Linked DNA regions of Homo sapiens. The protein of the gene in region 2 interacts with the protein of the main gene of each other region in a biochemical or structural test. Each region holds a gene or a part of one and is shown on either strand. Other genes may lie near its edges. The genes, in order: GOLPH3 and GLT8D1.

Evidence for each region.
Region 1: the proteins of GLT8D1 (region 2) and GOLPH3 form a complex in vitro, tested with the Homo sapiens proteins (one study listed by BioGRID).

The regions. Positions count from the first base shown.
Region 1 is NC_000005.10:32,155,036-32,171,319, reverse strand, and holds part of GOLPH3 (Golgi phosphoprotein 3), read left to right. Parts: intron 1-16,284. UniProt on the Homo sapiens protein: Phosphatidylinositol-4-phosphate-binding protein that links Golgi membranes to the cytoskeleton and may participate in the tensile force required for vesicle budding from the Golgi.
Region 2 is NC_000003.12:52,695,792-52,712,075, forward strand, and holds the start of GLT8D1 (glycosyltransferase 8 domain-containing protein 1), read right to left. Parts: upstream 10,001-16,284; 5' UTR 9,656-10,000; intron 9,162-9,655; exon of another isoform or gene 8,933-9,161; intron 8,138-8,932; exon of another isoform or gene 8,008-8,137; intron 7,908-8,007; exon of another isoform or gene 7,713-7,907; intron 4,706-7,712; 5' UTR 4,670-4,705; coding exon 4,654-4,669; intron 4,570-4,653; coding exon 4,471-4,569; intron 2,144-4,470; coding exon 1,930-2,143; intron 869-1,929; coding exon 751-868; intron 528-750; coding exon 443-527; intron 250-442; coding exon 137-249; intron 1-136. Other genes in the region: SPCS1 (signal peptidase complex subunit 1), read left to right, coding at 10,456-10,491, 10,853-10,912, 11,002-11,088, 11,896-12,021.

The DNA.
Region 1 (16,284 bases), on a different chromosome or scaffold from region 2:
TAAAACATTATGAAATTTTTTTTGCAATTTTTTTTTTTTAAAGCTCATCAGCTATTGCTAGTGTTAGTGTATTTTATATATGGCCCAAGACAGTTCTTCCAGTGTGGCCCAGGGAAGCCAAAAGGTTGGACACCCTTGCTCTAAATGTTTAAGGTGAAGCATATTAACATGCTGTTTTTCGGTGATTGGGTCTTAAGAAGATAATCTAAATAATTTGTTGAAGTTTAACCATACTCACATAATTTAAACAATTTAAAGTTATTTGGCGGGTAATTGAAACCATGTGTTCTGTTTATTTTGCATCAAGAGTCACTCATTATACTTTGCTAGTCATGGCTAAGGTCCAGATGCTTGCTAGCTTATTGTGAGCATTTCTTCCTGATTTCAGCAACCACATGGGGAAATTTTTTCTCTTTTTTTTTAGGCAAGTCCAGAGAGTTGAGGGGTGGGGTTGAGACTACTGGGATTTTGTATTGCTTTAGGTTTTGGTTTTAGGGATTAGCCTATATATTTTTTCCTTTCATCACATCTTTAAAATTTTTTTTTTTAAGAGATGGAGGTCTCAAGATGTTGCCCAGGCTGCACTCAAACTCCTGGGCTCAAGTGATCCGCCCTGAGTAGCTGGGAATACAAGGTGCATGCCATCAAGCCAACTCATCATGTCTTTACACTCTAATAACCAGCCCTGTCAACTTATCTGTTGGTATGTTTTTCCCTTGGGAGGCTCGCCACCATGTTTTTAACCTATAGTACTCTTTTTAGGAGGCAGGAATTGCTGTCTTACCCTGAGCCCAGGCGTTTATGCTAACTCATTGCTTTAACTGATTTTTACTTCAGCATTTATCTTTTTAATGTCTGGATTCTCCTAAGAACTTTAAAAGCTAAACTTTACATTTAAGCAAATCATTAATGTTGGAAATATTTTATATATGTGAGCTAATAACCTTATGTGAATATACTTGTTAAACCAGTACCTAGAGCAAGAAACAGAAGCCCTAGCCCTCCACTTGAGTATCTTTCCAGTCACTACCCATTCCTCAGGGGTAACCACTGGCTTAATATTAGAATTCAGCATAGATTAATTTTGCCTAGTTTTTTGTACTTTGTGTCTGCTTTTTGTTCAATGTGAGATTCATCCATATCGTGTGAGATTGTCCTTTGTTCTTATTGTCTTACCAATTTATTTTTAACATGTTTATAATCTATAATATTTAAAAAATTACTTTGACATATTCTGAGTCAAGTCTCCCTCTCTTTTTTGCTGAACAGAAGGTTCAGTTTTTGAATAAGCAGATGGTCTGGCTTCAGATTACCTGTTAGGAGTGAGTCTAAAGTCATTGTGATTGATTTTTTTTTTTTTCTTTACACATTTCAGATTTTTTTTTTTTAACCAATGATATTTGTTTTTTGCTTTTATAAAACAGGGATGGCTAGTCCCCTCAGAAGATTTTCATGCTCACTTGGGCAGAGAATCAGTGCATAAGTATTTAAGTAACTCTTTAAAGACCACAGTAAGGATGGCAGATAGTTTACACCTAAATTCAACTGCCAAGTAATTAGCAGTATTTCTTTAATTGACCCAGTGTTTGAGGGGGAGGGACAGCAAAAGTGCCAGGTATTTTCCTTTCCCTGTGTGTGTTTATTCTATAGATGCTTTCCATAGAATATTTTCAGGATGCTTTATTGAGAATTACCACAAATAACTGGTGTCATATATGTTTGAATGTCTTCATTGGTGGCAAATCTTAGTCTTTTAAGGTTAGATTTAATTATTTTCAGTGGCCAAGTATAATTTGGAGTATGCCTATGGAACAGCAGAAGCAGAGAGAGGCTCTATAGTCCTGTCCAAAGTGTATTCTTTGGCTTTTACATATAATTTAAGCCTTCTGAGCTTCAGTGTTTTCATGTATAATGGAAAAGTAGTCATTCCATATGATGGTTCTGATTGTACTGCTGTGGATGTTTATTAACTCCTCCCCAGGTCTTCGCTTTATTTTGTATTACTTTAGGGTTTCCCCATAGTGTGTTGCCTGTTTTTGAGACAGGGTCTTTCTTTGTCACCCAGGCTGGAGTGCAGTGGTGCGATCTTGGCTCACTGCAGCCTCAACCTCTTGGGCTAAAGTGATCCTCCTGCCTCAGCTTCCCGAGGAGCTAGGACCACAGGCACACACCACCATGCCCAGCTAATTAAAAAAAAATTTTTTTTTTATAAAGACAGGGATTTCACCACATGGCTCAGGCTGGTCTTGAACTCCTGGGATCAAGTGATCCTCCCGCTTCAGTCTCCCAAAGTGCAGGTATTAGAGGCATGAGCCACCGCACCTGTTTTTTTTTTTGTTGTTGTGTTTTTTGGTTTTTGTTTTAAGACAGATTGTGCTGTGTCGCCAGGCTAGAGTACAGTGGCGAGATCATAGCTCACTGCAGCCTCGAACTCCTGGCCTCAAGTGATCCTCCCGCCTCAGCCTCCCAAAGTGTTGGGATTACTGCGACCGGCTCTAGGATGCACTCTTGAAGCATATTATTCCCCTGCTGTTTTGTCATGCAGCCAGACTTGTCCAATCATATGTTTTCTTTCAGGGCTTTGGATCTTGAGAGAATAACGAGCTGTAGGGTTTTTTGGAGACCTTTCCAGAGTCATGTCAGCGTGTGGATCAGACTGTTCTTTGGCATGGTTCTTTGAGCTGCTTTCTCTGGTCTGTTGGCACTGTTTTTTTCCAGTCTGATTTTCCAGTCATCTTTCAGTGTTGTGAGTTTCAACAGCCTTCCAGTAAAGTTGCTTTTTAAAGATAGCCAGAGTCAGTTACTAATGTTTCTAATGCTTGTAGACAAGAACTGTAATACAGTAACTTAACTCTATGTCTTGAAAAATAAGTAGGTACTTGAGGTAAATAATATGTAATGGGGTAAAATACTTAAGATTAACCAAAATGATAGAACTGACTTTTGTGTGGCTTTTACACAGGCTCCAAAGATGTTTTCCATTTTTGGAATAAGGTTCCCAAGGTCACTACTTTGAAGTATAATAGTGATGAAGATGTATAACTTAACAAAAATTGTTTTCCTTTCTATACGTGTGGTGATGTCCACCATCTCTACATATCAAATCTGTAAATCAGAAATTCAGTCAACAAGTATTCAGAATTTCCAGATGTGCTGAGTTTTAGTAATTTAAAATATAATAAAGGCTTCTGAGTTTTTAATGAATTTTCGTTGTTTCTAAGACAAATGATATTTCCTTCATATTTTTTGAAGTTTTGAATTTTTATCTATTTTTTTCAGGTGTTTAAACACAGGTATGAGATATACAGGATCTCAGAAATTACTTTTGAAGTTCATTAAACTATTTGATTGTACTTTTTTTCTTTTGAGACAGGGCCTAGCTTTGTCTTCCAGACTGGAGTGTGGTGGTGTGATCATGGCTCATTGCAACCTCGACCTCCTGAACTCAAGCAATCCTCCCTCCTCAGTCTCCTGAATAGCTGGGACTATAGGCGCACCCTATCATGCCCAGCTAATTAAAAAAAAAAATTTTTTTTTGTAGAGACGTGGTCTCACTATGTTGCCTAGTCTCGAACTCCTGGCCTCAAGCAATCTTCCCGCCTTGGCCTCCCAAAGTTCTGGGATTACAGGTGTGAGCCACCACGCCTGGTCTGCTTATTATACCTTTTCAACAAGATTTTATACTGTTGAAATTACTTTTTAGTGCTTTGGGATTCTTTTACAATATGGTCAAAATATTCACTAACTCATCTCATAAGTTATACTAATATTTGATATTTGTTAATTTTGGACTACCTGAGAGTTCTTGTATGGAGCATTTGAATTACGTTTTAGAATTGTATTTTGAAGGCTGGGTGCGGTGGCTCACACCTGTAATCCCAGTACTTTGGGAAGCCGAGGTGGATGGATCACCTGAGGTCAGGAGTTCAAGACAAGCCTGGCCAACATGGTGAACCCCTGTCTCTATTAAAAATATAAAAATTAGCCAGACATGGTGGCGAGCACCTGTAATCCCAGCTACTCGGGAGGCTGAGGCAGGAGAATCACTTGAACCTGAGAGGCGGAGGTTGCAGTGAGCCAAGATTGCGCCACTGCACTCCAGCCTGGGCGACAAGAGTGGAACTCCATCTCAAAAGACAAAACAAAACAAAAGAATTGTATTTTGAAGTTATTTTGATAGATTTTGAAATATTTGGGGGATTTTTTTGATATTTAAAGAAATACACTTTTATAATATCATCTTACATGTAAATCTTAAATACCCTGGAGGCATCAGGCATTATGCTTGTTCTGGTACATAATGTTAAGCTTTTGGCTGTACACTTTTTTATGTCTTTGCAAACTCCCCCCCCCTTCTAACAGCATAACTTTTCTACTGCCATTAATCAGATTAAATAGTATAAAACTATGCTGTAGTCTTTGTTTAGAGGATTTATCTTCATGTTGTGAGTCTCCCTTTGAAGCAGCACAAAAAGACAGTGCTTGTCCTCCTCCTGCTTTTTTTTTTTTTTTAAGATGGAGTCTTGCTTTTATCACTCGGGCTGAAGTGCAATGGCACCGTCTTGGCCCACTGCAACTCCGCCTCCTGGGTTCAAGTGATTCTCCTGCCTCAGCCTCCCAAGTAGCTAGGATTACAGGCGCCTGCCACCATGCCCAGCTAATTTTTGTATTTTTAGTAGAGATGGGGTTTCACCATGTTGGCCAGGCTGGTCTCGAACTCTTGACCTCAAGTGATCCGCCCACCTCGCCTTCCCAAAGGTCTGGGCATGAGCCACTGTGCCCGGCCATGCTGCTGCTTTTTAGTAAGTGTCCTGACAAGTGCCAAAAGTGGAAACCTGGCTTCATTTTGAAATTGATGTTTTTGGCTTCAGGTTTCTCTTATCAAAGCTGGGAAGACTGCAACCTGTTTTAATAGCATTGTACAGTATTACAATGTAATCTAGTACATTTTGAGGTTTTTGACTTAGGTATTACAAATATATTTAGAACATAGGCTATTTCTCTTCCCGTTTGGTAAACCTCTCATCTGCAAAAACACAACTAATATTAAAGTACAGTGTATTGCCAACAAGGATGTTTCTGGTCACTTTTAAGAATAACATTTTAAACAACAACAAAAAAATTTACTTATTTTTAAACTTAATGCATTGTATTTGATTTACATATTCCTTTAATGGAGAAGTTCTTAAATTGGAGTGAACAGAGCTGAGAAACTTTGTGAATTCTCTGCAGTTGTGTGTTTTCTTGGGGAAAGAGGACAGAACTTTCATTAGATACTCAAAGCATTTAGTGAATCAGGAAGGTTAAAAATTACCAAACAGGAACTGTTTGTTTTAGCTTAAGGTTTTCGTCTTTTCTTTTTCCTTCCTGAAAATTAACTACAGAAAATTCCAGGTTTCCAGGGTTGTAGCGAGTTGAATTTTAAGTGATTTGAGATACGAAGTCCACATTTCTGTGGCCTGTCTAGAGGTTCTCATCTTGCTAAATGACATTTAGAAGCAGCATAACTGCTTCTAATCTAGGATTACCACACATCTAGGATTCTAACAGTTTTCATCCATTCATCAAATGTTTACTGAGCACATGCTCTGTGAGAGGCCCTTTACTAAGTACAAATTCACTGAAGAACATGTCTGTCTTCAAGTTCATTCATTTTAGTTCTGTGTGTCAAAGCTCATATAGTAAACTACAAAACTAAATTATGTTGCTGTTCTAGAATTTTTTTTTTTTCTCTTCTGAGACAGAGTCTTGCTCTGTTACCCAGGCTGGAGTGCAGTGGTGCAATCTATGCTCACTTCAACCTCTGCCTCCTGGGTTCAAGCGATTCTCCTGCCTCAACCTTCTGAGTAGCTGGGATTACAGGCACTCACCACCACACAGGGGTACTTTTTGTATTTTTAGTAGAGACAAGGTTTCGCCATGTTGGCCAGGCTGGTCTCAAACTCATGACCTCATGTGATCCACCCACGTTGGCCTCCCAAAGTGCTGGGATTACAGACATGAGCCACCCTGCCTGGCCTGTTCTATAATTTTTTGATGTCATATATTTCAGGCTGGCATTTGGCAGTCACTCAGTACAATGACATTACTCACATTAAGAATACATAATTTACCTAACCCTGGCAGGTGTGGTGGCTCATGCCTATAATCCCAGCACTTTGGGAGGCTGAGGCAAGGGGATTACCTGAGGCAGGGAGTTAGCGACCAGCCTGGCCAACATGGTGAAACTCCATCTCTACTAAAAATACAAAAATTAGCCAGGCAGGGTGGTATGCACCTGAAATCCCAGCTACTCGGGAGGCTGAGGCAGGAGAATCACATGAACCCAGGAGGTGGAGGTTACAGTGAGCTAAGATCATGCCACTGCACTCCAGCCTGGGCAACAGAGCAAGACTATCTCAAAAAAAAAAAAAAAAAAAGAATACATAATTTACCTTATTAAGTAAGCTAATATTATTTATTAAAGTAAATTTACTTATTAAATAAATTTACTTAATACATTTACTGTATTAATTAAGTAGATTACTGGCTTTATTAAGTAAATTATGTATTCCCAGTGTGGTAATGTCATTGCCAAGGGAGTGAAACTTGGTTCTGGGCGTGGTAGTGAAAGAATCGTACTCTTGGCCGGGCGCGGTAGCTCACCCCTGTAATCCCAACACTTTGGGAGTTGAGGCGGGTGGATCACGAGGTCAGGAGATGGAGACCATCCTGGCTAACATGGTGAAAGCCTGTCTGTACTAAAAAAATACAAAGAAATTAGCTTGGCGTGCTGGCGGGCTCCTGTAGTCCCAGCTACTCGGGAGGCTGAGGCAGGAGAATGGCGTGAACCCGGGAGGCGGAGCTTGCAGTGAGCCCATATCGCGCCACTGCACTCCAGCCTGGGCAACAGAGTGAGACTCCGTCTCAAAAAAAAAAAAAGAATCTTACTCCTCTTATGTATAAAAAGGCACACTTACAGTGTACAAACAAATATGTATATTCCATCATATTAAAATTTCATGGGGGAGAAGATAATGAGGAAAAAATCTGGAAGTACTTCTTAAGGGAACAGTGATGAAATAAAGGGTGAGAAACATTGAAATAAGTCACTATGGAAAATTATAAGCTTGTGCTTAGTTGAGGTTTAGAAATCTTTTTCTCTGATAGGAATTTTTATTGCAATAGAATTTGGCTTGTAGTTCAGTAGGAAGAGGAACAATTTTAGCATACTGAACTGCGTGTAGGAACTTATGAGTTAAAGTTTTAAGGTAAAAGTTATTTTTATTGATAATATATAGGCAAACTTTGTATTCCACCACTACCTTCTGGGACAGATTAGAAATTAAGAAACTGTATGTAAAAGTTGCTAATGGTTATTTTTACTCTGGTTTCATTTTCTAGTTCCAGTTTCTTAAATGGAAATGCTAAACAGTTTATACCGTATTAACAAAATAACCTCAGAAATAACACTTAAGAACTTAAATTTCAGTTCAGTCACTGAATGGAGTATACCATTTAATTTTTGTCTATACCATGTTGTGTAGCTAAAGTGAAATTAGAGGTTATTTAGTATTTATATGTTCCGTTTAATCCAAGTATTGAACAGCTTCTCTGTGCCATTCATTCCCTTTGCCAGATGCTGGGGTTACAAAGAAAAAAAATATATATATATATGTATATATTTTTGAGACCAAGTCATGCTCTGTCGCCAGACTGGAGTGCAGTGGCATGATCTTGGCTCATGCAACCTCCTCCTCCTGGGTTCAAGCAATCCTTGTGTCTCAGCCTCCCAAGTAGCTGGGATTACAGGCACATGCCACCATGCCCAGCTAATTTTTGTACTTTTAGTAAAGACGGGGTTTCACCATGTTGGCCAAGCTGGTCTTGAACTCCTGGCCTCCCAAAGTGCTGGGATCACAGATGTGAGCCGCTGTGCCCCCGGCCACAAAGAAAAATTTTTTGCTTTTAAGGAGCATTCAGTCTGCATAGAAGACAGATTTGCGAATGATTTCAATAAAGTGAATTATTAACTTTATCCTGCCTGCCTCTTCTGAGTTACTAACTTTTATGGGAGTATGTGTTAGGTGCAGTAAGGATGTACATAGGGAGGATGCTTTGGATCAGGACCTGCAAGACTGCTGTGTTCTTGACACCTAGCCTTGCCCTTGAGTAGTTGAAAGAATTAGAATAAATATTTTGAATTTTAGAACCTTAGTTTTCTCCTGGGCAAAATGGGCCTACTTTTTTATTTTTTATTTTTGAGACGGAGTCTCGCTCTGTCACCCAGGCTGGAGTGCAGTGGTGCAATCTTGGCTCACTGCAAGCTCTGCCTCCCGGGTTCACGCCATTCTCCTGCCTCAGCCTCCCGAGTAGCTGGGACTACAGGCGCCTGCCACCACACCCGGCTAATTTTTTGTATTTTTGGTAGAGACGGGGTTTCACTGTGTTAGCCAGTATAATCTTGATCTCCTGACCTCGTGATCCGCCCGCCTCTGCCTCCCAAAGTGCTGGGATTACAGGCGTGAGCCACCGCGCCCGGCCATGGGCCTACTTTTGTGTTCTGTCCGAAAGCCTCTAAGTTGTAGGGATCCAATGTGTTGGCATATGTGAGTGCTTTGAAAACCACATGGTGCTGAACAAATGCAAATGGGTAATTACCTAGCCTAGAGAAGTAAGTTAAAGTTTATAGTGGTCTTGACAAGTGACAAGTATTTAATATTTCCATTATTTTTACTATTTCTTGATTCTCTTGCACTTTATATGCTGGGCTTACTGAACGTTTTACTCAAATTCAGATGCTCATCTATGCGTGTATTTTTTTAAAAATTTTAATTTTTTTTTTTTTTGAGACGGAGTCTTGCTCTGTTGCCTAGGCTGGAGTGCAGTGGCCCAATCTCTGCTCACCGCAAGCTCCGCCTCCCGGGTTCATGCCATTCTCCTGCCTCAGCCTCCTGAGTAGCTGGGACTACAGGCGCCTGCCACCACGCCTGGCTAAATTTTTGTATTTTTAGTTGAGACGGGGTTTCATCGTGTTAGCCAGGATGGTCTCTATCTCCTGACCTCGTGATCCGCCCACCTTGGCCTCCCAAAGTGCTGGGATTACAGGCGTGAGCCACCACGCCTGGCCTTAAAAATTTTAATTTTTATGGGCACATAGTAGGTGTATTTATCTCTACCTTTGTTCTGAACCTCTGGTCAGTTTCCTTTTTGTAATTCCTGGCAAAACTGGTTTGGGAAATTTGGAAACTTGAAGTACCACTTGACTTCTGATTTTTATTTTTTTATTTTTTATTTATTTATTTTTCTTTTTTGAGACGGAGTCTCGCTCTGTCGCCCAGGCTGGAGTGCAGTTGTGCGATCTCGGCTCACTGCAAGCTCTGCCTCCCGGGTTCACGCCATTCTCCTGCCTCAGCCTCCCGAGTAGCTAGGACTACAGGCGCCCGTCACCATGCCCTGCTAATTTTTTGTATTTTTAGTAGAGGCGGGGTCTCACCGTGTTAGCCAGGATGGTTTTGATCTCCTGACCTCGTGGTCCGCCCGCCTCTGCCTCCCAAAGTGCTGGGATTACAGGCGTGAGCCACCGTGCCTGGCCCGACTTCTGATTTTTAGGTCAAGCCCAGAGTCTTCCTTAAAGAATCCTTGGGATTGGTTCCATGATTCCTCTTTTCCAGATACTGCTTAGCCTCCAGACGTATCAGTAGCCTCCAAGCCTCCAAAATGACTCCAGTCACAATTAAATAAAATAGCACATGTAAAGTGCCTGATAGTTGGTGCACAATAAATATTAAGTTTCATTACGCCTTGATGCTCCAAATCAGAAAACTCAAAAGGCCTTGACCTCTTCCAGCCCTTGTGGTCAGCAGTTCTCTCCACCTTTCCATATTCTCAGCTTTGGTTTTTTTTTTTTTTTTCCTCAGCTTTGGTTTTTTTTTTTTGAGACAAGGTATGCTCTGTCACCCAGGGTGGAGTCCAGTGGTGTGATCTCTGCTCACTGCAGCCTCAAACTTGCTGGGCTCAGGTGATCCTCCCACCTCAGCCTTCCAAGTAGCCGGGACTACAGGCGTGCGCCACTATACCTGGCTACTTTTTGTATTTTTTGTAGAGATGGGGTTTTGCTGTGTTGCCCAAGTTGGTCTCAAATTCCTGGGCTCAAGTGATCCTCCCTCCTCGTCCTCCCAAAGTGCTGGGATTACAGATGTGAACCACCGGGCCCAGCCTCACCTTATCTTTTTGATGCCACCCAATTTTTTTTTTTTTTTTTTTTTTTTTTTGAGACGGAGTCTCGCTCTGTCACCCAGGCTGGAGTGCAGTGGCGCGATCTCGGCTCACTGCAGGCTCCGCCTCCCAGGTTCACGCCATTCTCCTGCCTCAGCCTCCCGAGTAGCTGGGACTACAGGCACCCGCCACCACGCCTGGCTAATTTTTTGTATTTTTAGTAGCGACGGGGTTTCACTGTGTTAGCCAGGATGGTCTCGATCTCCTGACCTCGTGGTCCGCCCGCCTTGGCCTCCCAAAGTGCTGGGATTACAGGCGTGAGCCACCGCGCCTGGCCCATGATTACTTTTTTAGGTCTTCATGTTTGTGTTAGTGGATCCTTATATGTAAGGCTCTGCCTTTTTCTACCTAGCAGCCAATTCTTAGTTATTTCTTACTGCCTAGTGAGACTCTTCACCTTAATCTAACTTCTTAGTTGCTCTCACATCCTTTTTGCCTACCATTGTATCTCTAGCATCTAGCACAATGCCTAGTATTGCACAAGTGTTTGTCTTTAGAATGAGTGAGGGGACACCATTTTATTTATATCAGTATTATGATAATCACATTGAAATTGTAATTATTATTTCTTCCTTTTCATTCTATGCCTTTGTATATTAGTCATCTTTATCACCTCTGTTTAGTAATGTCTTGGCACTCAGTAGAGTTTATTGAGTTAAAATTATTCTTGAAATATATTACTTCCAGCTGGGTATGATGGCTCATGCCTGTAATCCCAGCACTTTGGGAGACCAAGATAGGAGGATTGCCTGAGTCCAGGAGTTCGAGACCAGCCTGGGCAACACAGCAATACCCTGTCTCTATTTTAATAATAAAAATGTATATTAAACAAATAGAAATTTATTACTTCCAATAATTTTTTTTTCCCCAGAGTCTCATTCTGTCACCCAGGCTAGAGTGCAGTTGTATAATCATAGCTTACTGCAGCCTTGAACTCCTGGGCTCAAGTGATCCTCCCACCTCAGTCTATTTTGAGAATTTAAATAATTACAGTTTTTGCTTTATGCAGCATTATGCCTCAGCCTCCCAAGTGGGAATGATTTTCTGCTTTTAGAAAATAATGCAGAGGCCAGTATCTAATAAATGTTATAGTGACTTGATATAAAACTTACATAGGACTTGTCAAAATGTCCTCAACTTAAAATACTTACCCACAGTATGATGCAGTAGTAAAAGTGCTGTATCTAGAGTCACAGCTCTGGGGCTCGAGGTATCACTGCTCTAGAGTGTGAATGTAGTCATATTTCTTACTTTCTCTAAACCTCAGATTTTTCAAATGTAAAAAGGTGATGATATTTTACTAGGTAATTGTAGAACCTAGATGATAATTTATAAATGGCTTTGCAAACTGAAATGTTATTCTCTTGTATTAAAACCTTCGTGTTTCTTACAGAAGAATAAAGACTGTAGCTTATATTTAGGTCTTACTAACAAGATGCTGTTAAATATACTTTAAAAAACCACTAGTGAAAAACCCTTAAAAATTCATTTGCTTGAGAGGGAGTGTCTGCTCACACTTTGTTTTGTGCTCTCTGCTGTGAAGTGATCAGTGGCAGGTGTGGAAAGAAAAAAGTGATACCAGTCAAGCACCCCAGTCTGAAAATCTGAAATTTGAAATGGTTCCAAAATTTGAAACCTTTTCAGTGCTGACATGATATCACAAGTGGAAGATTCCATACCTGGCACACTTTGTTTCATGCTCAGAACTATTTAAAATATTGTGTAAAATTACATTTGGCTATGTGTATAAGGTATATGTGAAACACAAATGAATTTTGTATTTAGACTTAGGTCCCATCCCTAAGGTATCTCATTATGTATTTGCAAATATTCCAAATCTAGAATCTGAAACACTTCGGGTCCCAAGTACAGGGATACTCAACCTGTACCCTCTTCTGTTTCAGGGGGCTGAAAGGAAGCACACCTAGATCATGCATTAAATAAACAGGTCTTGGAAGGCAAGACAGAAAAGGAGCCAGGGCTTTGGAGCCAGGCAGACCAATTTCATTCCCTGCTTTGCCACTCAGTGCGTGGCAGGTCCTCTGAGCCTCAGTTCCATTATCTTGTGAAATTGGAAGAATAGCACCTACTTTACAAGGTTTCCTAAGAATTAGAAAGAATGTACACTGAATGCTTAACACAGTTTTAACAGCATAGATACTCAGTGTATGGCAGAGTATGACTGTGTGCACTTTAAAAAAGGATTTGGAAGGATACATTCCAAATGTTAATGGAGAGTATCTTGAAGAGGGAATGTGTGAGGGATGGAAGCGGAAGAGAAAGTAGAGACTTTTAATTTTCTGTCATGTATTTCTATTTGAATTTTTTTTGAAAATAAGTGAGAGTACCTGAGAAGTCTGTGTAAGTGGCCAAGAGCACTCCGTTGGAGGAATAGGCAGCAGAAGAGTAACCTGACAAAGAGCCCGAGCAGGAGCTGCCAGAAGAGGGGGATTGTGGAGCCAGCAGGAGGAAGAGTGAGGAGTAGTGGAGATGGACTTGCTGATGATACCTTCGAGTCTGCTGTGAATGGAAAGGAGATAGGGCAGGGTTGGTCCGGGTCTGTCTCTTGTATGATGGTAACTGTGAGAATATTTGAAGGCCAATAGGCAGGTGCTAGTATACATGTTAGAGATTTAAGGTATTTTAGGAGGGCAGGAGTTGTGAACAAAGGGAAGTAGGAGAGAATGGGTAGGATTAGCTTTAGGCAGACTGCACTGTAACGAGACAAAAGAGTGGGTATGTATGAAATTGAGTTTATTGAGTTGGTTTGTTTTTGTGAAGTAATCTGCTGAAAATGAGCTGAGCTTTAGAGGTTTGGGGAGAATGGGGTTTTGAAATATCTGATATGGAGAGTGGTAAGAGCTCTGAGTAGGGAAACTGATTTTGCCGTGTGTGTGTGTGTGTGTGTGTGTGTGTGTGTGTGTGTGTGTATTTTATTTATTTATTTATTTATTTATTTATTTATTTATTTTGAGACAGAGTTTAAAGCTGATTTTGCCCAGTGTGTGTGTGTGTGTGTGTGTGTGTGTGTGTGTGTGTATTTTATTTATTTATTTATTTATTTATTTATTTATTTATTTATTTTGAGACAGAGTTTAGCTCTTGTTACCCAGGCTGGAGTACAATGGCGTGATCTCGGCTCACTGCAACCTCCTCCTCCTGGGTTCAAGCGATTCTTCTGCCTTAGCCTCCCAAGTAGCTGGGATTACAGGCATGCACCACCATGCCCGGCTAATTTTGTATTTTTAGTAGCGATGGGGTTTCACTATATTGGTCAGGCTGGTCTCAAATCTGCTGACCTTAAGTGATCCACCCGCCTTAGCCTCCCAAAGTGCTGGGATTAGAGGCGTGAGCCACTATGCCCAACCCCAGTATCATTAAAGGTTTAGTTTAAGTTGGAGACAGTACATTTATATACTGAGATTTCAATATTTTTTTACATCAGCAGTTCAGAAACACAGGTACAGATATGGAAAAAGTGACAGTTGGATTGATCCGGGGCTGGAGTTTTGCTAGTTGAATGCAGTGGGAAACAATGGATGTGTTTAGGAAACTAGTAAGGGTGTAGTTGAAGGTAGTGTACTCTGGCGTTGTTTGCCCATCTTTGAATTGGGATTGATAATAATAGCACTTAGTTCAGAAGGTTGTTGCGAAGGTTGAAATGAGCTCCCACAGTACTTAGTACTCAGAACAGTGCTTTGCACATGGTATGTGCACAGTAACTTATTGTGCTGGGTGGGGATGAGGGAAAGAACGGAGGAGACTGGTGGGAAAAAGGGAGGAAGGCTGAGGATTGGAATCCCCATAAGGATGATGAAAAGTTACTTGTGGATTGAATTTCCGAGTTGGATTTGGTTCTCATCAAAAGGTTGTGGGTTTAAGGATGCTGATGTCCAAGTTCCCAGGGAGTGGCAGATAAGATCCCTGGTTTTGAGTGAAGACCATGAGAATAGAGGCCCTGAGGGCCCTGGCTGTTACTTCTGTGAAAAAATACATTCTGTGTTACAAATTGCTTAAAAGGGAACTTTTAAAACGTAATCATAACTTGATTACTACCAGTAACTTACACATGTGGATGGCACCCAAATCCAATCATTATTTAGTTACTTTACTGGTTTTGTTATCTGTCTTAGTTTATTTGGGCTGCTGTAAAATACCATAGACCAAGGATCTCTAATCTCCGGGCTATGGACCGGTACTGGTCTGTGGCCTGTTAGGAACTAGGTTGCACAGCAGGAGGTGAGGGGCGGGCAAGCGAGCATTACTGCCTGAGCTCCGCCTCCTGTCAGATCAGCAGCAGCCATTAGATTCTCATAGGAGTATGAACCCTGTTATGAGCTGCGCATGTGATGAGGGATCTAAGGTAGGCGATCCTTATGAGAATTTTAACTAATGCCCGATAGGATCTGAGGTGGAACAGGCTCATCCCAAAACCATCCCCCCCGCCGCTCCAGTCCGTGGAAAAAATTGTCTTTCCTGAAACCAGTCCCTGGCACCAAAAAGGTTGGGACTACCACAATAGACAGTGTGACTTATAAACAACAGATTTTTTTTTTTTTTGAGACAGAATCTCGCTCTGTCACCCAGGCTGGAGTGCAGTGGCGCAGTCTCCATTCACTGCAACCGCTGCCTCCCAGGTTCAAGTGATTCTCTTGCCTCAGCCTCCCAAGTAGCTGGGATTACAGGTGCACACTACCATACCTGGCTCATTTTCTATTTTTACTAGAGACAGGGTTTTATCATGGCTGAGACCACCAGGCTAGTCTCAAACTCCTGACCTCAGGCGATCCGCCCACCTCAGCCTCCCAAAGTGCTGGGATTACAGGCATGAGCTACTGTGCCCAGCTAACAACAGGAATTTATTTCTCACAGTTCTGGAGTCTGGGAAGTTCAAGAACAAGAAATTGGTGAGGGCCTGCTTCCTGGTTGTCTTCTCATTGCATCCTCACATGGCAGAAGGGCATAGGGACTCTCTGGGGCCTCTTTTATAAGGGCACTAATTGCATTCATGAGGCTTCTGCCTTCATGACTTAATGACCTTCCAGAGACCCTGTTGGGGGTTAGAATCTTTTTTTTTTTTTTTTTTTTTTTTTTTTTTTTTTTTTTGAGACAGTGTTTCACTCTTGTTGCCCGGCTGGAGTGCAGTGGCTCAATGTTGGTTCACGGCAACCTCCGCCTCCTGGGTTCAAGCAGTTCTCCTGCCTCAGCCTCCCAAGTAGCTGGGATTACAGGCATGCGCCACCATGCCCCACTAATTTTATATTTTTAGTAGAGACAGGGTTTCTCCATGTTGGTCAGGCTGGTCTCAAACTCCCGACCTCAGGTGATCTGCCTGCCTCGGCCTCCCAAAGTGCTGAGATTATAGGCATGAGCCACCGCTTCCGGCTAGAATCTTAACATGAGAGTTTTGGGGGGACACAAACATGTAGTCTATAGCCTTACTCTTTTGCTAATTAAAAAAATCAGAAAGCTGAGGGCTTTCTTTAGTCATTTGAAATGCTTAAGGGGAGTTTTTGGCTTAGTTTTTTTGGTAACAGCTTTATTGAGATTTAATTGACAATTCACTTATTTAAACAGTACAATCCAGGATTACATGCCTGTAATCCTAGCACTTTGGAGGAGACCAAGGCAGGAGGATTGCTTAAAGCCAGGAATTTGAGACTAGCCTGGACAACGTAGTGAGATCCCATTGCTAAAAAAATAAAAATAAAAAGCCGAGTGTGCTGGTGCCTGCTTATAGTCTCAGCTACTCAGGAGGCTGAGGTGGGCAGATCATTTCAGCCCAGCAGTTCAAGGTTGCAGTGAGCTATGATCAAGCCACTGCACTCTAGCCTGGGTGACAGAATGAAACCCTGTCTTTAAAAAAACAAAGTAAAAGGTAACAATGCAGTGACTTTTAGTGTATTTAGAGTTGTGTATCCATCACCATAATACATTTTAGAACGTTAATTTTTTTTTTTTTTTGAGACAGAGTCTTGCTCTGTCGCCCAGGCGGGATTGCAGTGGTGCGATCTTGGGTCACTGTAA
Region 2 (16,284 bases):
TCTACAGAAAAGCAGGCTTGAGTTTTGGGATGAAATGATTGGGGAGTGTAAATTGCAGCAAAAGAGTTCCCTGAATTTGCAACCTCTTCCCATTAAACAATATTGTAGGAAGAGGGGTGTTTGGTAAGCAATTTACCTGGTTTCCTGCTCCACGGATGACAACTTTAGTAGAGGCTGAATCACAATCTTCTGAAAATGCAGCTGCATGTCCTGGCTTCAGTGCTGTATTGTAAAGGGCAAGAATATCACCTGAAATAGACAAGATGTTAAGATTTACATTTCCGTTGCCTTGAGAGTTCCCTGTTACTCCCACTTCTCCCTATGGTGACCTTTTATAGAAGACCATAAATAAACCACTACAGCCCACTGTAGCCCATTGTTTTATTTAGCAATTGTACCCAATCTGGGTGGAGAACAGCACTCATGGTGACATTTTTGATACCTTGCACAATTACATCATCATCCATGTATATGGCCTTCTTTGCGCTGGGAACCAGAATTGGCAAGTAGAACCTTGCAAAGGTTAACTGGAAAAGGAAAGAATAATTGGCATAGGATACCGCACTAGCTGTGCTTTTATTTACACAGAAACTCCTAGGATGCTTTCAGTACCCATTCAGGAGAAGAAAGGACTCTTAGAACCACCCAGGCTTGGTCCCCAGGAAACTACTTGCACTATACCCACAGATACCCAGGTATTCCATTATTTCCTAATACTGCCAAGTGCAAAGAAGGATGCATGGAACTCACAGGTTTCATGGATTCCCCCTGGTCAGGATCCTCCTTTACTTTTCCTTCCAAAAGTTTAGGGTCAAAATTGACAATTTTGTATCTGATGCTTTTCAGGGAATCACTGTTGAGCCAGGACCTGATGAAGATAAAACACTACATTTTAGTTTCAAATAATGTCTCCAAACCAATGAGGGAATAATGCAAAAGAAACCCTATGGACCAAATAGGTGTTTTCAAGCTCCTTTTATCTCTGAGCTTTGGTTTCCTCGTCTGAAGTGAGGGTAATTCCCACCAAAGTCCCTCCCTGAATTAAGATTGTATGGTAATTATCTTCTAACACTAAAACTACTCTAGAAAAACTATAGAATTAAGAACATTTCATCACCACCTGGACTATCCAACTCTTAACTGTGGTGACCCTAATTCCACCACTCAAGTCTGAGGCACTACCTGTAAGAAAAAACTGTTTGCTAAAGGAGTACTGCACATTTTTTCTAGGTCAGTTTCAAATCAGTGTTTTGTGGCTACTTAGTGTTATTTCTGTAGTCTATTTTTATACAGCTTCTGTTTCTGTATTTTAAATGCGTTCAGAATTTACAGCTTTAAAAACTAAATATGAACCATGCAGAGGGCCACAAGGACCAAAATGTTTCAGAAATTTGACAACTGGTTAATTTGTTAGACCAACAAATTTGGAGTAAGTTTTATAAGTCTTATTCATTTTCAAAATGGATTAGACTATCCAAGTTTCCCCAGATCACTCTGGGCCAGGATTTGGATCAGGATCTGTGATCAGCATCACAACACTACCTTGCCATTGTTGCTAAGTCCCTTCCCACTCTAGACCAGAACTGCTCCGAGCATGTCCATGAAATAAGGAACTTGTGACTTGTAAATCAACATTTACTGCTCCCTTCACTGAGAAAGTATTATTATCAAAACACCATCAGGTGGGGTTAACAGTTCAGAGTGACAGCTGACTTACTTCCTGGCATGAGCTCCTTGTATCACTTCTCCTATTATGGGGATATGCTCATAATACAGTCCTAAAAAAAATATGTCATTTGTACAGTTTATCACTGGTACAATTTCAATTGTATAAAACAACATACAAACCACAGAAAAACAGATCCTGGATTGGCAGCTGGCCTGCTCTAAATCATCCTCTAGAAGCAGAATCACATAAGCAGAGCTCACCGGAGATGGTCTGCTGTATTGTTGAGAGTAACAATGTAGAAAATCACATTGGAGCGAGTGTTGTGCTGAATGCTGTTTATAGCTGCAATGGCCCCCCCAAGCCTGTCTTCAGATGCAGCGATGACCACAGGAATCTCCTCTTGTCTCCCATCTACTGCATGTCGGAGAGCATTTGGGACAAAGTCTATAGGTTGAGGCCCTACAATTCCTGAATCTGAAAACACAAGGAAGGCACTGTGATTACAATCTCATGGGCTTTTGATATAGAGTCCAAGACATGGAAAAAGGGAAGGTAAGGATTATGGTACTGATCTACCTCATTCTCCCCCATTAAACTGAAGCATATAGCCCTGAAACTTTCCCTGTATGTAAATAAGCTTTTGGAAAAGTGGAGGAAGCATTTTTTAAAATACACTGACAGCACTTTGGTACACTACTGGTAGGAAAATAACAGAACCTGTTAGAATGTATTATGGCAATTTGTATCAAGAGTTTCCTAAGGACAAAATCTGAAATATAATCAAAAGAAAGAATTTTATTTAAATTGTGAAAACTTAGCAGCAAACTAAATCAATGTTTTTCAAGTCACGAATCACAAGTAGGCATGAAACCAATTGAGTGAGTCACAATCAATTTATACAGAAAAAGTTTCTGGATTGCAATAGAAAACTGAAATAGAGGCCGGGCATGGTAGGTCACGCCTGTAATCCCAGCACTTTGGGAGGCTGAGGCGGGTGGATCACTTGAGGTCAGGAATTTGAGACCAGCCTGACCAACATGGTGAAACCTCATCTCTACTAAAAATACAAAATGAGCCAGGTGTAGTGGTGAACACCTGTAATCCCAGCTACTTGGGAGACTGAGGCAGGAGAATCGCTTGAACTCGGGAGGTGGAGGTTGCAGTGAGCCAAGACTGTACCACTGCACTCCAGCCTGGGCAGCAATAGGAAAACTCCATCTCAAAAAAAAAAAAAGAAAACTGAATTAGAATACCAAAGAAAACATAGTGTATCACACAAGGAAACTGCAATTACTGTCCTGTATGCATTCTTGCCTTTCATTTTTTTTTTTTTATTCCTCATTGAACCCTGGTATTTACTATGTGCCAGGCAATATCTAGGCACTGGGGTTACAGCCATGAATAAAACATCCCTAACTTTCTGAGGATAGACAGCCAATAAGCAAATACACATGTATGTACATGTGCTACATGTAATGTATTTCCTATTGTAGGGCTGCCATCAAAAAGTCTGAAAGCTGTTGTAGCAAAAGATGTTATCCTGTGGAAACAAATTAATAGACATTAAGATTATGTATGAAGAGTTTCTACCATCACAGTGACATGATATACAGAAAAACATGTCATGTACAGTTTATATATAGTACAATCTCAACTGTACAGAAAAAAAGATGTGTAGGAAAAAACTGGAAGGTACTAAGCCAAAATTGTAAATGAAATCATTCAACCAACTAATATTTATTGAACAGCTAGTATCAGCCATCATCCATAGGCACAGAAGATAAAACAGTACACAAATTGCCTTCATGGAGCTTAAATACTGTTGTCTCTTTTTTTTTTTCTTGAGACGAAGACTCACTCTGTCACCAGGCTGGAGTGCAGTGGCGTGATCTTGGCTCACTGCAACCTCCGCCTCCTGGGTTCAAGCGATTCTCCTGCCTCAGCCTCCCGAGTAGCTGGGACTACAGGCGCATACCACCACGCCCAGCTAATTTTTGTATTTTTAGTAGAGACGGGGTTTCACCATGTTGGCCAGGCTGGTCTTGTACTCCTGACCTCGTGATCTGCCCACCTCAGCCTCCCAAAGTGCTGAGATGGTCTCGATCTCTGACCTTGTGAGACGCCCACCTTGGCCTACCAAAGTTTTGGGATTACAGGCATGAGCCACTGCTCCCGGCCGCTGTTCTCTTTTTTATAAACTTTCCTACCAGGAACATGCATTACTTTATATGTATCATACATATATACACGTGATAAAACATGCTATCAGAGCACTCCGTGAAAGTCAGGGGAAAGCTATTACAGTCTCTCACTCTGGTCAGCTATGGTGGGTGGCAATCCAAAAATGATTTTTGACAAACACTCAAGCCTCAAACATTTCTCAGTACCAAGGGAGAACAGTATGAACGACTAATTCAATATACTGTGCGATATATTATACAACACAGTGATTTTTAAAAATCACTTGACAAACTTTTATTGCTACAGTCCCACTGATGCAGCTGCACAGCTGAAGGAAAGTAACTAGACTGACACTCTAGTGACTAGAGCAGGCATCAAACACCAAGGACACTGGTATGCCCTCACTTTCTGAAGCCCTGTCCTGCTGACATGTGAACAGATGGCAGCCCTCAGAGGCTCTCCTAAGGCCTCTGATTTGGTGAAAAGGAATATTCTGTCAGATCAAACCCTTAACAAACAACTGCTAGTACTACCGGAAGAAGAACAACTTAGGATGTGTGACACAGAGAATACCAGGTCCGCAACAGATTCTAAGGCATTATTAATAAGTGCTCGCATACCTGTAACCTCATTCCTTAACAAACTGCTCAAGCTGAGGAAGTTATGGTGCAAAACCAGTAAGAAGAGAGCAACAGCCAGGACCAAGATGATGATGTTTACTGAAATAGATAGGGAAAACCTATGTTATACCTCTTTATCTTTGACCAGGTATAAAAACAACTTAACTTGTAGAAAGAGCATACCTTTACGGAATGACATCTTTTTCTTCTGTCATATAAATATTAGTTTTTAACCCTACAAAACAAAAACAAGCCCCCAAAGTCAGTAAGCACATGAGAAGGGACATCAAAATGCCCTAACACTTTTTTTTTTTTTTTAATTCAGGAAGAAACAAGAGGCATATACAGTATTCCGCCAGAAACTCATTTTGAATTCACAGTTCCCAAGAACCCAATTTGGGATCTGAAATTTTTGTGGTACTCATTAATAAAAAACTTAAAAATAAGTTGGAGAAACAGCCTTAGCCTTGTACATTATACATCACAAGATGAAAAGCAAAAGAAACATTTAAGAATTAAGTTTCAGCCAGGCAGGGTCTGGCCTATAATCCCAGCACTTTGGGAGGCCGAGTGGGGTGGATCATGAGGTCAGGAGTTCAAGACCAGCCTGGCCAAGATGGTGAAACCTCGTCTCTACTAAAAACTGCAAAAAAATTAGCCAGGTGCAGTGGCAGGGGCCTGTAATCCCAGCTGCTCAGGAGGCTGAGGCAGGAGAATCGCTTGAACCTGGGCAACAGAGGTTGCAGTGAGCCGAGATCATGCCATTGCACTCCAGCCTGGGCGACAGAGTGAGACTCTGTCTTTAAAATAAAAAATTACATAACATAATTAAGTTTCTACTTAAAATTCCTAAAGTAGACATGGATTCACGTTGTCTATGACCAAGTAACCTGAGGTCTTAGCCTCATCAGTAAAAACATGCCTGTTCAGAGTTGTATCCCATTCACCTTTAACATGAGTGTCCTCAGAGAAAAGAATATTATCCAAATTCACTTGACAAACCCACAGCACAGAAAAAGCTACAAAAATTCACAAAATCCAATCGATATCAAAAGTGTGGAGTACATTTCTAGCCATTGTAACTAGCAAAAAAAAAAAAAGGTTTATTTTAGTTTATTATTTTTTGAAACGGAGTCTTGTTCTGTCGTCCAGGCTGGAGTGCAGCGGCATGATCTCAGCTCACTGCAACCTCTGCCTCCCGCATTCAAGCGATTCTCCCGCCTCAGCCTTCCCAATAGTTGGGATTACAGGTGTGCGCCACCACGCCCAGCTAATTTTTGTATTTTTAGTAGAGATGGGGTTTCACCATGTTGGCCAGACTGGTCTCGAACTCCTGACTTCGTGATCTGCCCACCTCAGCCTCCCAAAGTGCTGAGATTACAGGCGTGAGCCACCACGCCCGGCCAAAAAAACATTTAAGGTGCTATTCTCAAAAACCATCTCTGTTAGCTAGCTATTCATCTCTTAAGAAGGTGGTGTCTAATTGTCACAATGTCCTGGTTGGTCCTCCTCAGCTCATCTGACCTTCACTTTTTCAAAACAATTCAGTGGAAACAAGATAGTAGGTGGAACTAAATTTATTTAAAAAATAAATTCCTTCAACAAGCTCTGGATAAAATGTTTCCTTAAAGACATTTTACCAACCAAGATATCGTGAACCTACCTTTTAACCCTTTCTTACTTCATCTTCACCCATAGTAGTACCCAACCCTTACATAAGGCTATTAATTTTACAAAGCACTTTCAAACATAGCGTATTGCAATGCAAGTTAGTTCATTTGTTTTTTTAGACAGGGTCTCACCATGTTGCCCAGGCTGGCCTCTAACTCCTAGGCTCAAGCAAGCCTCCTGCCTCAGCCTCCCAAGTAGCAGGGACTACAGACAAAGTAAGTTTGAATTAACTTCATCCTGGGAAAATTGTGTGCCTACCAGGCACTTAATTTCTCAAGGCCTTTGTAAAGAAGAGAAATATGTTGAAAAACTGTTTAAAAAATTGGGGGCTGGGCACTGTGGCTCATGCCTATAATCCCAAAATGAAAACAACAAGGCTAACGCGGGCAGATCACCTGAGCTGAGGAGTTCAAGACCAGCCTGGGTAACATTGTGAAAGCTCATCTCTACAAAATATACAAAAATTAGCCAGGCATGGTGACGTGCATCTGTAGTCCCAAGCATTTGGGAGGCTAAGGCAGGAGGATCCCCTGAGCCAGGGAGGTCAAGGCTGCAGTAAGCCATATTCATGCCACTGCACTCCAGCCTGGGTGACAAAGCGACACCCTGTCTCAAAAAAATAAAAAATAAAAAGCAATAAAAACTGTGGATCAGCCAGGCACTGTGGCTGATACCCATAATCCCAACTATTCAGGTGGCTGGGGTGGGAGGCTGCCTGAGCCCAGGAGTTCCAGACCAGCCTGAGCAACATAGTATGACCATCCCCCAACCCCATATCTAAAAAAAATTTTTTTTAAAAATGGGATCACAGGCCAGATTACAAATTAGGGGGAAAATACACATCTTTCTTTCTTTCCTTTTTTTTTTTTTTCGAGACAGAGTCTGGCTCTGTCAGCCAGGCTGCAGTGCAGTGGTGCCGTCTTGGCTCACTGCAACCTCTGCCTCTCAGATTCAAGCAATTCTTGTGCCTCAACCTCCCGAGTAGCAGGGACTACAGGTGTGCGCCACCACGCCCAGCTAATTTTAATAGAGAGAGGGTTTCACCATGTTGGCCAGGCTGGTCTCGAACTCCTGACCTCAGGTGATCCACCTGCCTCGGCCTTCCAAAGTGCTGGGATTACAGGCCTGAGCCACCAGGCCCAGCCCACACACACCTTTCCAAAGCAGTATATATGAAGTACAACGTGTCAGTGAACTTCTTCTCATATACATCAGGGCGCCGTGGCTCACGTCTGTAATCCCAGCACTTTGGGAGGCCAAGGCAGGTGGATCAAGAGGTCAGGAGTTCGAGACCAGCCTGTCCAAGATGGTGAAACCCCATCTCTACTAAAAATACAAAAAATTAGCCAGGCATGGTGGCAGGTGCCTGTAATCCCAGCTATTTGAGAGGCTGAGGCAAGAGAATCCCTTGAACCCGGGAGGCGGAGGTTGCAGTGAGCTGAGACCGTGCCACTGCACTCCAGCCTGGGCAACAGAGTAAGACTCTGTCTCAAAAAAAAAAAAAAAAAAAGAGAAGTATATACATCAGTATATACCCTAAGTCATATGCCTCTATCACATTATGGGCTGACCTTATCTACAGAAGCTGGCAGAGGGGAGCTGTTCGGACAAAGCCCCAACATCTGCCTGCGATGAGGCAACTTCCACCACCACTGAGAAAACGATCTTGCACTCAAATAAATCCCACTTAATTAATGGTACAAGAGATAATGTTTTTAGTTTCTTGACTTCCAGTTAGCAGTTACGGGATCAAGAGGCACACTTGGCTGGAAACAAGAAAAACACAATTCTATCAAGTATCTGACATACTTAAGTAGACTGGCAAGGCAGAAACCAGTTGCTCCTAAAACTTCCACAGTTACCTACATGCAAAACGCCAGTTATCATGGAGTACGTCTAATCCATATTGTCTTTCCTGGGGCTATTCCTGGTAAGAGAGCTTTCCTGATCTGGTTAGAAGGAATTCTCAAAACGAAATTGCACACAGACGCTGGATCTGTAATAGTTAACTACATTTTCGTAAGAGTATATAATTGTGTACAATTTGATTAGCAACACAGTTGGTCCTCAGTATCAGTCGGGGATTGGCTCCAGGACTCCCCATGTATACAAAAATTCACGGATGCTCAAGTCCCTTATGTAAAATGGCATATTACAGTCAGCCCTCTGTATCTGTAATTTCAGTCCGTGGTTGGTTGAATCCAAGGATACAAAACTGTGGATACAAAAAAAAAAGACCGCACTGGCCGGGCGCGGTGGCTCATGCCTGTAATCCCAGCACTTTGGAAGGCCGAGGTGGGTGGATCACTTGAGGTCAGGCGTTTGAGACTAGTCTGGCCAACACAGTGAAACCCCGTCTCCACTAAAATCACAAAAATTAGCCGGGCGTGGTGGCGCATGCCTGTAATCCCAGCTACTCAGAAGGCTGAGGCAGGACAATCCCTTGAACCCAGGAGGCGGAGGTTGCAGTGAGCCGCGATCGCACCACTGCACTCCAGCCTGGGCAACAGAGCGAGTCTTCGCCTCAAAAAAAAAAAAAAAAAAAAAAAAAGACCACACAGAGATATATCTATTTATACACACAACAGAAAGTCTCTTCAAACACACCAAGAAATACAGAGCATGAGAAGGAAACAGGAATAAACTCTTGCCCATCCCTCTTTCTGCCTTCTACACGTCCTGAGTCCTTCTGAGGTCAGAAAAGTGTCAAACGTGTCTGCATTTTACTGTTTGGTCTCTGCCACGTGCAAGGATGAAAGGGCACTGAGGATATACAAACACTTTCTCCTACCCTTTCATCTGGCTGGCTCCCACTTGGCATTCAAAGGTCAAGGTAGCCTCCTCCAAACTCCACGTTGAGCTGCACCTCCCCTGAGCTCCCACATCTGGGCCTCCCTCTCCCAGGGCTAATCCAGCTGTCATGTATTTCTGGCGTGATGTGGCTGTCTCCCTTGACACGCTCTGGGCTCTTCCAAGGCAACAGCCTGGTCTTGGTAACAACCGTGTCCTCGGTCTGCTGTCTGGCACAAACAAGGTGCCGTGAATATTTGCTGGTTGCATGAATGAGGACAGCAGTCCCACCCTGTCCCGGGAGTGCCTAGAATTCCACTGTTTGTGGCCAACCCAGAATACATAACCTGGGGGCCGGAGAGCCAGCTGGGACCCAGAGGCCCGGGTTCCTCAGAACGGTTTCTCTCCAAAACGTGGGCATCCCACCTGGCTGACGGTAACGGAGGAGGGTCTAAGATTTAGAGATACACCAGCCTTGAAAGAGAGGCTGAGTGAACCTTTGGCTGGCCTCTATCGGGAGGGCCCAGCCTGGGTCTGTGAGGGTCAGTAAAGCCGGCCACAATGTGAGAGGGCTGAGTTCGGGAGCCCCCAGATGAGGGACTTTCTACGCGGATGAGAGGGACAGCCGAGCACCAGGGTCCCCTCTCCAAGGGAATTCTCTCTGTTGTGGATGCCGCCTAGGGTAGCCCCCCTAAATTCCAAGGGTCAGTAGGGCCCCCCTTACACTTTGAAGTGATCGGAAAGTGATGTGACGCTCCGGGGATCCCACCAGGCTCAGAGATACCCCTGGTTAGGGCTCCGACAAGTCGTTCCCCTCAAAGGCTCGCCGCGGCCGCCCTTACTGCAGGCGATGGAGGAGATGCGGATGCAGCCCGCGCCCCGACCCGCCCTGCCAGCTCAGCGCCCGCGCCGCAGGCCCCGGAGCCCAGCCCGTTGTCTGGCCGCCCGCGTTCCCTGCACGCTGGGCCGAGCACACTTGCCCTCTAGCTCCGTGGCAGCCGCGCAGCCCCACTACGCCCAGCCAGCCCGCAGCGGTAACCGCTAGAGCGTCGCGCCAAGCAGGCGCCGCGGGGCAGCCCTGCCGCCGGGGTCCTCGCAGGGAAAAAGGCCGTCGCCATGGAGACGCGGGGGCGCCGGCGGCCGTTGGGCCGCGCAAGTACTGTCAAGGACAGTTTTCGGGACGGGGGACGCGGCTCCAGGCACCCAACAGCACTGACGGCGAACACTTCACGGGCGCGCGATGCCTCGACAAGGCGGCCGCCACCACCACCTCAGCTGCCCTCGCGGGCAGCACGGCGCGGCAAAAGCGCACGTCGCCTAGCGATGGCGCGGGGCGGGGACACGGGCTGTACCGGCCCGTCGGAGACTTCCGCTTCCGGGGCCGCCGCCATCGCTCTCCCGGGCTTAGAAGGCCCGGCTACTGACGCGCAGTGCCAGACCTTACCCCTCACGGTCCTTAAGTCTCGGTCGCCCTCGCCTCGCAGCCTGCCACCCGCGCTCAGCTGCCCGCCTCCTCAGCCAGCCATGCTGGAGCATCTGAGCTCGCTGCCCACGCAGATGGTGAGGGCGCAACCCGGGGACCTCTGCACGCCGTTCTTGTGCCTGGCAGCTTCGAAGCCCATGTTGGAGCACCGACCCGGTGCTGCGCTGTTCCGGGCCCGGATGGTTACCGTCCACCCTCTTTCCCGAATTGCCTCCTGGGTCCCCTTCTCTTCTACTCCGCGAGAATCTCCTGTCCATTCTCCGTGAGGGTGTTTCAGTTCCTCCCGGGAAGCCCAGAATTTAATATCTTGCCCAGGCCCTTAGGAGAGCGGGAGACCCTGATGTTGGGGTTACCCTGTGCCAGAGTTGTGAGGTCAGGGCAGGAATTGTATGTTCTCGGCGGTGGAACCAATTCTTTTTTTCCTCTGCTTCACCCCAGGATTACAAGGGCCAGAAGCTAGCTGAACAGATGTTTCAGGGAATTATTCTTTTTTCTGCAGTAAGTATTGGTTTTACATTTAATCTCCGCCCCCGCCTCCCTCCCAACCCTCAGTTTGAGTGTGTTTAATATACTTCATTTGTCTCTAGATAGTTGGATTTATCTACGGGTACGTGGCTGAACAGTTCGGGTGGACTGTCTATATAGTTATGGCCGGATTTGCTTTTTCATGTTTGGTAAGAAATTTGTGGGTATTAGTGGCAGCTTGGGTTTTGTGAGTCGGGTTGGTTTGGTTAGACCTACTCAGTAGTGAGACCCAAAGCCAACGTTTCCCTCATCCTTCCAAACAGCGTTTCCCTTTGCTATCATTGGAAAAGTAGAATGCCAAAATAGTGTCAGATGGTGCGAACTATATAAAAGGACACAGCTTATTTCCTTTGGCGGCTACTCTGGCTAATAATCTTAAGGTCAAAGCCAGCAGGAGTTTTCATGGTGCTCACGTTGTCCCTTCACCTTTTATTTATTTATTTATTTAAATTTTTTGAGACGGAGTTTCACTCTTGTTGCCCAGGCTGCAGTGCACTGGGGCGATTTCGGCTCACTGCACCTTCTGCCTCCCGGGTTTAATAGATTTTCCTGCCTCAGCCTCCCGAGTAGCTGTGACTACAGGAGCCCACCACCACACCCAGCTAATTTTTGTATTTTTAGTAAAGACAGGGCTTCACTGTGTTGGCCAGGCTGGTCTCAAGCAATCCGCCCACCTTGGCCTCCCAGAGTGCTTGGATTACAGGCGAGAGCCACCACGCCTGGCCCCCACCTTTCTTTTAGGTCTTAAAGCCATTTGTATAGGCAGTGAGCCTGTTCCCATCATCATACAGTATTTTGCATGGATGGTGGCACAGAGCCTTTATAGGAATATGGATTTTTTTTTTTGTTTTTTTGTTCCCTCAGCATAGGAGTCATTTGGGAACCTGGCATTATACGTAATGATTTTTTAAACTTTTAATAGCTATAATTTATGCATTTCCTCTTTTCTGGCCCAGCTGACACTTCCTCCATGGCCCATCTATCGCCGGCATCCTCTCAAGTGGTTACCTGTTCAAGAATCAAGCACAGACGACAAGAAACCAGGGGAAAGAAAAATTAAGAGGCATGCTAAAAATAATTGAGGTTTTCATGATTCAGCACCTGCTTTTGTTTCTGTGAGATGAGCTAAATTGCTTTCATACCCCAGATAAGAGCTAAAACCACCTAATGCTCTTATGGCACAGCTGTGTATAGATTTAGTTCTCTTTATACTTCATTTCTAGCCCAGTTGGGTTTTGATTTATATAAGTAGTTTAGACCTTCTCTTCATAATCTTGCTCTGAGATGGGGAACAGAACACACAAGTATGAAGTTTCTTTCAGGTGTAAATAATGAAAAATAAATGCCTCATAAATGATAGTACAATGTAACTATCAAAGTTTTATAATTCATTATGAGTTAACCATTTTAATGTTTCCAATTAAACCTCATAGTGCAAGTTCTTTGTCTAAAGGGTCTTCTGTTGATTATTCTGCAAGGAAGATAATTAATAAAAGCCTAAGTTAGAAGTTCGTGCTTCTGGCCAGGTGCAGTGGCTCTCACCTATAATCCCAGCACTTGAGGAGGCTAAGGCAGGAGGATGACTTGAGCCCAGGAGTTTGAGACATTTCATGGTATGTAATTAATAGTTGTCATTAGAACATTAGTTCCATGAGAACGGGGACTTTGTTTTGCTCACTGCTGTCTACCCAGTACATAGAAGAGTACACGATGCATTGTTAAGTACTTAAGATTTATTGAATGAGAACTGCATTGTACAATATGGTGCCACTAGACACGTCTATTTAATTAAAATTAAAATATAAAACTCTAAAACTAGCCATGATTCAAAGGTTCAATAGCTATATGTGACTAGTGGCTACCATATAAAACATTTCCATCACAAAGTTCCATTTATCAGATCTTATATAGAACCTTGAATAAAATTTAATAGACAAGTGATTTTGTATTTAACATTTCACCTTTATTGAATGCCTATAAGGCCATTTGAATAACGGATCATGTACAAAGCAACAGGAAAAAAAAAACTGCAAGCAGTAAAGGTTGTGCAGGTGATATTCAGTAACACTGCAGTGTAGCCAGAGCAAGGACATAAAACTTCCTTAGCTTTGTAAGTCTGTGGAAATCAAAACTTCTAAAAGAGAAAACCGAAATCAGAATTACTGACACTTTAGGCCAGGCATGGTGCCTCAAGCCTGTAATCCCAGCATTTAGGGAGGCCAAGGCAGGCAGATCACCTGAGGTCAGGAGTTCAAGACCAGCCTGGCCAACATGGTGAAACTCCATCTCTACTAAAAATAACGAAAATCAGCCAGGCATGGTGGTGTGTGCCTGTAATCCCAGCTACTCGGGAGGCTGAGGGAGGGGAACTTGAACCCAGGAGGCGTAGGCTGCAGTGAGCCAAGATCGCACCACTGTACTCCAGCCTGGGCAACAAGAAGACTCCATCTCAAAAAAAAAAAAAAAAGAATGATTGACATTTTAGAACCAATGCCAAAAGAGTAACACATCAAAGTCTCTGAACTGTGGCCAAAGGTATATTCGGAAGAAAATTCACAGTCTTAAAGATGAGTTTTTAAATTAATTTAGGAAGATGAATTAAGCACTCAAGTAAAAACGATAAAAGTGGGAAGAAAAGATGTTTAAACAAAATAAAAATATACAGTATGGTAATTAATAAGAAAGTATGGGGGAAGTCAGGTGTGGTGGTTCATGCCTATAATCCCAGCACTTTCAGAGGCCGATGCAGGAGGACTGCTTGAATGCAGTTTGAGACCAGCCTGGGCAACACAGACTTCCTCTCCACAAAAAATTTTAAAAATTAGCCAGGTGTGGTGGTGCATGCCTGTGGTCCTAGCTACTTGAGGGGCTGAGGTGGGAGGATCACTTAAGCCCAGGAGGTCAAGGCTGCAGTGAGCTATGATCACCTCACTGCACTCCAGGCTGGGTGACAGAGCAAGACCCTGTCTCAAAAAAAAAAAAAAAAAAAAAAGATATGGGTGAGATTCCTTTAATTCTAATAAAATACCTACTTTATACCAATACATTAGAAAAATTAAGTAAAACTGATGACTCTCCAGAACGATGTGGATTTCCAAAACATGCACGGAAAGGTGAATAGCTCAAGGATACCAAGTTTGCCAAAGATTTGTTCCCAACTGGGCATTGGGACTTGATGGTTTTGCAAGTTGAGTTCTAGCAAACCCTTCAAAGTGAAAATAAGAGTTATCAGAAACCAGGCTGTGAGCACTGTAAAAGGGCAGGAAGTATTGTTTTATTCACCACTATATCCCCAGCTCCTGGCAGAGAACCTGGCACACAGTAAACTCTAAATAAAAATCTGTTAAGTGTGCCGGGCGCGGTGGCTCACGCCTGTAATCCCAGCACTTTGGGAGGCCGAGGCGGGCAGATCACGAGGTCAGGAGATTGAGACCATCCTGGCTAACACGGTGAAACCCTGTCTCTACTAAAAAAATACAAAAAAATTAGCCGGGCATGGTGGCGGGCAACTGTAGTCCCAGCTACTCGAGAGGATGAGGTAGGAGAATGGAGTGAACCTGGGAGGCGGAGCTTGCAGTGATCTGAGATTGGGCCACTGCACTTCAGCCTGGGTGACAGAGCAAGACTGTGTCTTAAAAAAAAAAAAAAATTGTTAAGTGGCTGTAAAGGGAACATTTCATTAGAGTATTTGTGTGTGTGTGTAATTTTCAAAGATAGATATATTTTTAGTTATAGAAACTGAAAACAGGGCTGGGCACAGTGGCTCATTCCTGTAATCCTGGCACTTTGGGAGGCTGAGGTGAGTGGATTGCTTGAGCCCAGGAGTTCTGAGATCAGCCTGGGCAATGTGGTGTAACCCTGTCTCTACAAAAAATACAAAAACTAGCCAGGTGTGGTGGCACACGCCTGTGGTCTCAGCTACTAGGGAGGCTCAGGCAGGAATACCACTTGAGCCCCAGAAGTGGAGGTTGCAGTGAGTTGAGATCATGCCACTGCACTCCAGCCTGACTGACAGAGTGAAACTCTGTCTCAAAAAAAAAACACCTGAAAACATTTCTGGAGCAATATTTATTTTTAGAGTCCCTCGAATACAGAAGTGAAAATGTACTATTCAAGACTTGTATTTAACTTCATAAAATTTCTTTCCTAGATGGGTATTACCTCTTATTAAACAACTAATAAAATATGTGCTATATAATCATACATTTAAAACATGGAAAGACAACTAATATCTTACAGTACATGAAGACAAACTTCAGGAGACAAACATTAAATATATCCAAAAACTAAATGGACCTGGACTTTGCTTACAAATTGCTTAAATGGAAATGAAATTTGTGTTTAAGAAATGTTTTCACTGATGGAAAAATAAATCTAACAAAACCATTATGTAAAAACATACTGATTTACAAAGCCAATGTGTCTCAGTTTTAATTTGTATATACCCTAGATGAGGTTTATATTAAATGAGAATAAAATATTAAAAGTCCATCAATGTGTAGAAAAGAAATACAGCTGCTCAAGTACTAGATAGAACTTCATATTCTTTAAATCTATTTCTAGAACTGAATTGACTTTTTAAAATTTTATAATTTATCAACTACTCCTTAAGGTTATTAACAATAGCAGGAATTATGACGACATATTATGTCATTTGTTTCTCCTACTGCTTTTATCTCTACATTACAATATAAAATTTTCAATCCAGCATTTTATAGCTCTGTGTTTAAGTTAATTAGTACCTTAAAAAAATAAAATTCTAAATATAAACTTGGTGGATTAAGGCTCAGTAAACAGTAATCAAACAAACAACAGATTTGTCCTCACAAAGAGAATATGAAAGCCAAAGTTTTTTTTCTTTTGTGATCCTGCTTCATATTATTCTGTTCTGTCCAATTTCTTTTCTGTAGGGAAACGCCAAAGAGATATAAAAAAGAGATATAAAACAGTGGTGAGTGGCTTCCAAATGACTGTTTGCCCTTGCTTTTTAAGCCAAAATCCTCTAAAAATAGGTCTTTAATTCTGGCAGCAGATTAGGACAAATGCTCAAAAATTCATGTTTTCTTCAAAAAATTTCAACTGGCGAGCTTTCACACTGTAAGTTGTATACTTTTCACCCATGTGCTCCCGCAAACGTACCTATTTGAGAAACAAAAAGAAAATCAATCAGTATGTAGTAGGAAAAAATATTTCTGTAATCTTAGAGGAAGGGCTTTTCTAAGCATGGTATCCAAGGTGGAAACCATACAGGAAAATACTAATAGTTCAGTTTACATAAAACTTTTAAACTTCAAGATGTTTCGAAAAGTCGTAAGAAATTAAAGAGCAAACAAACAATAAACTAG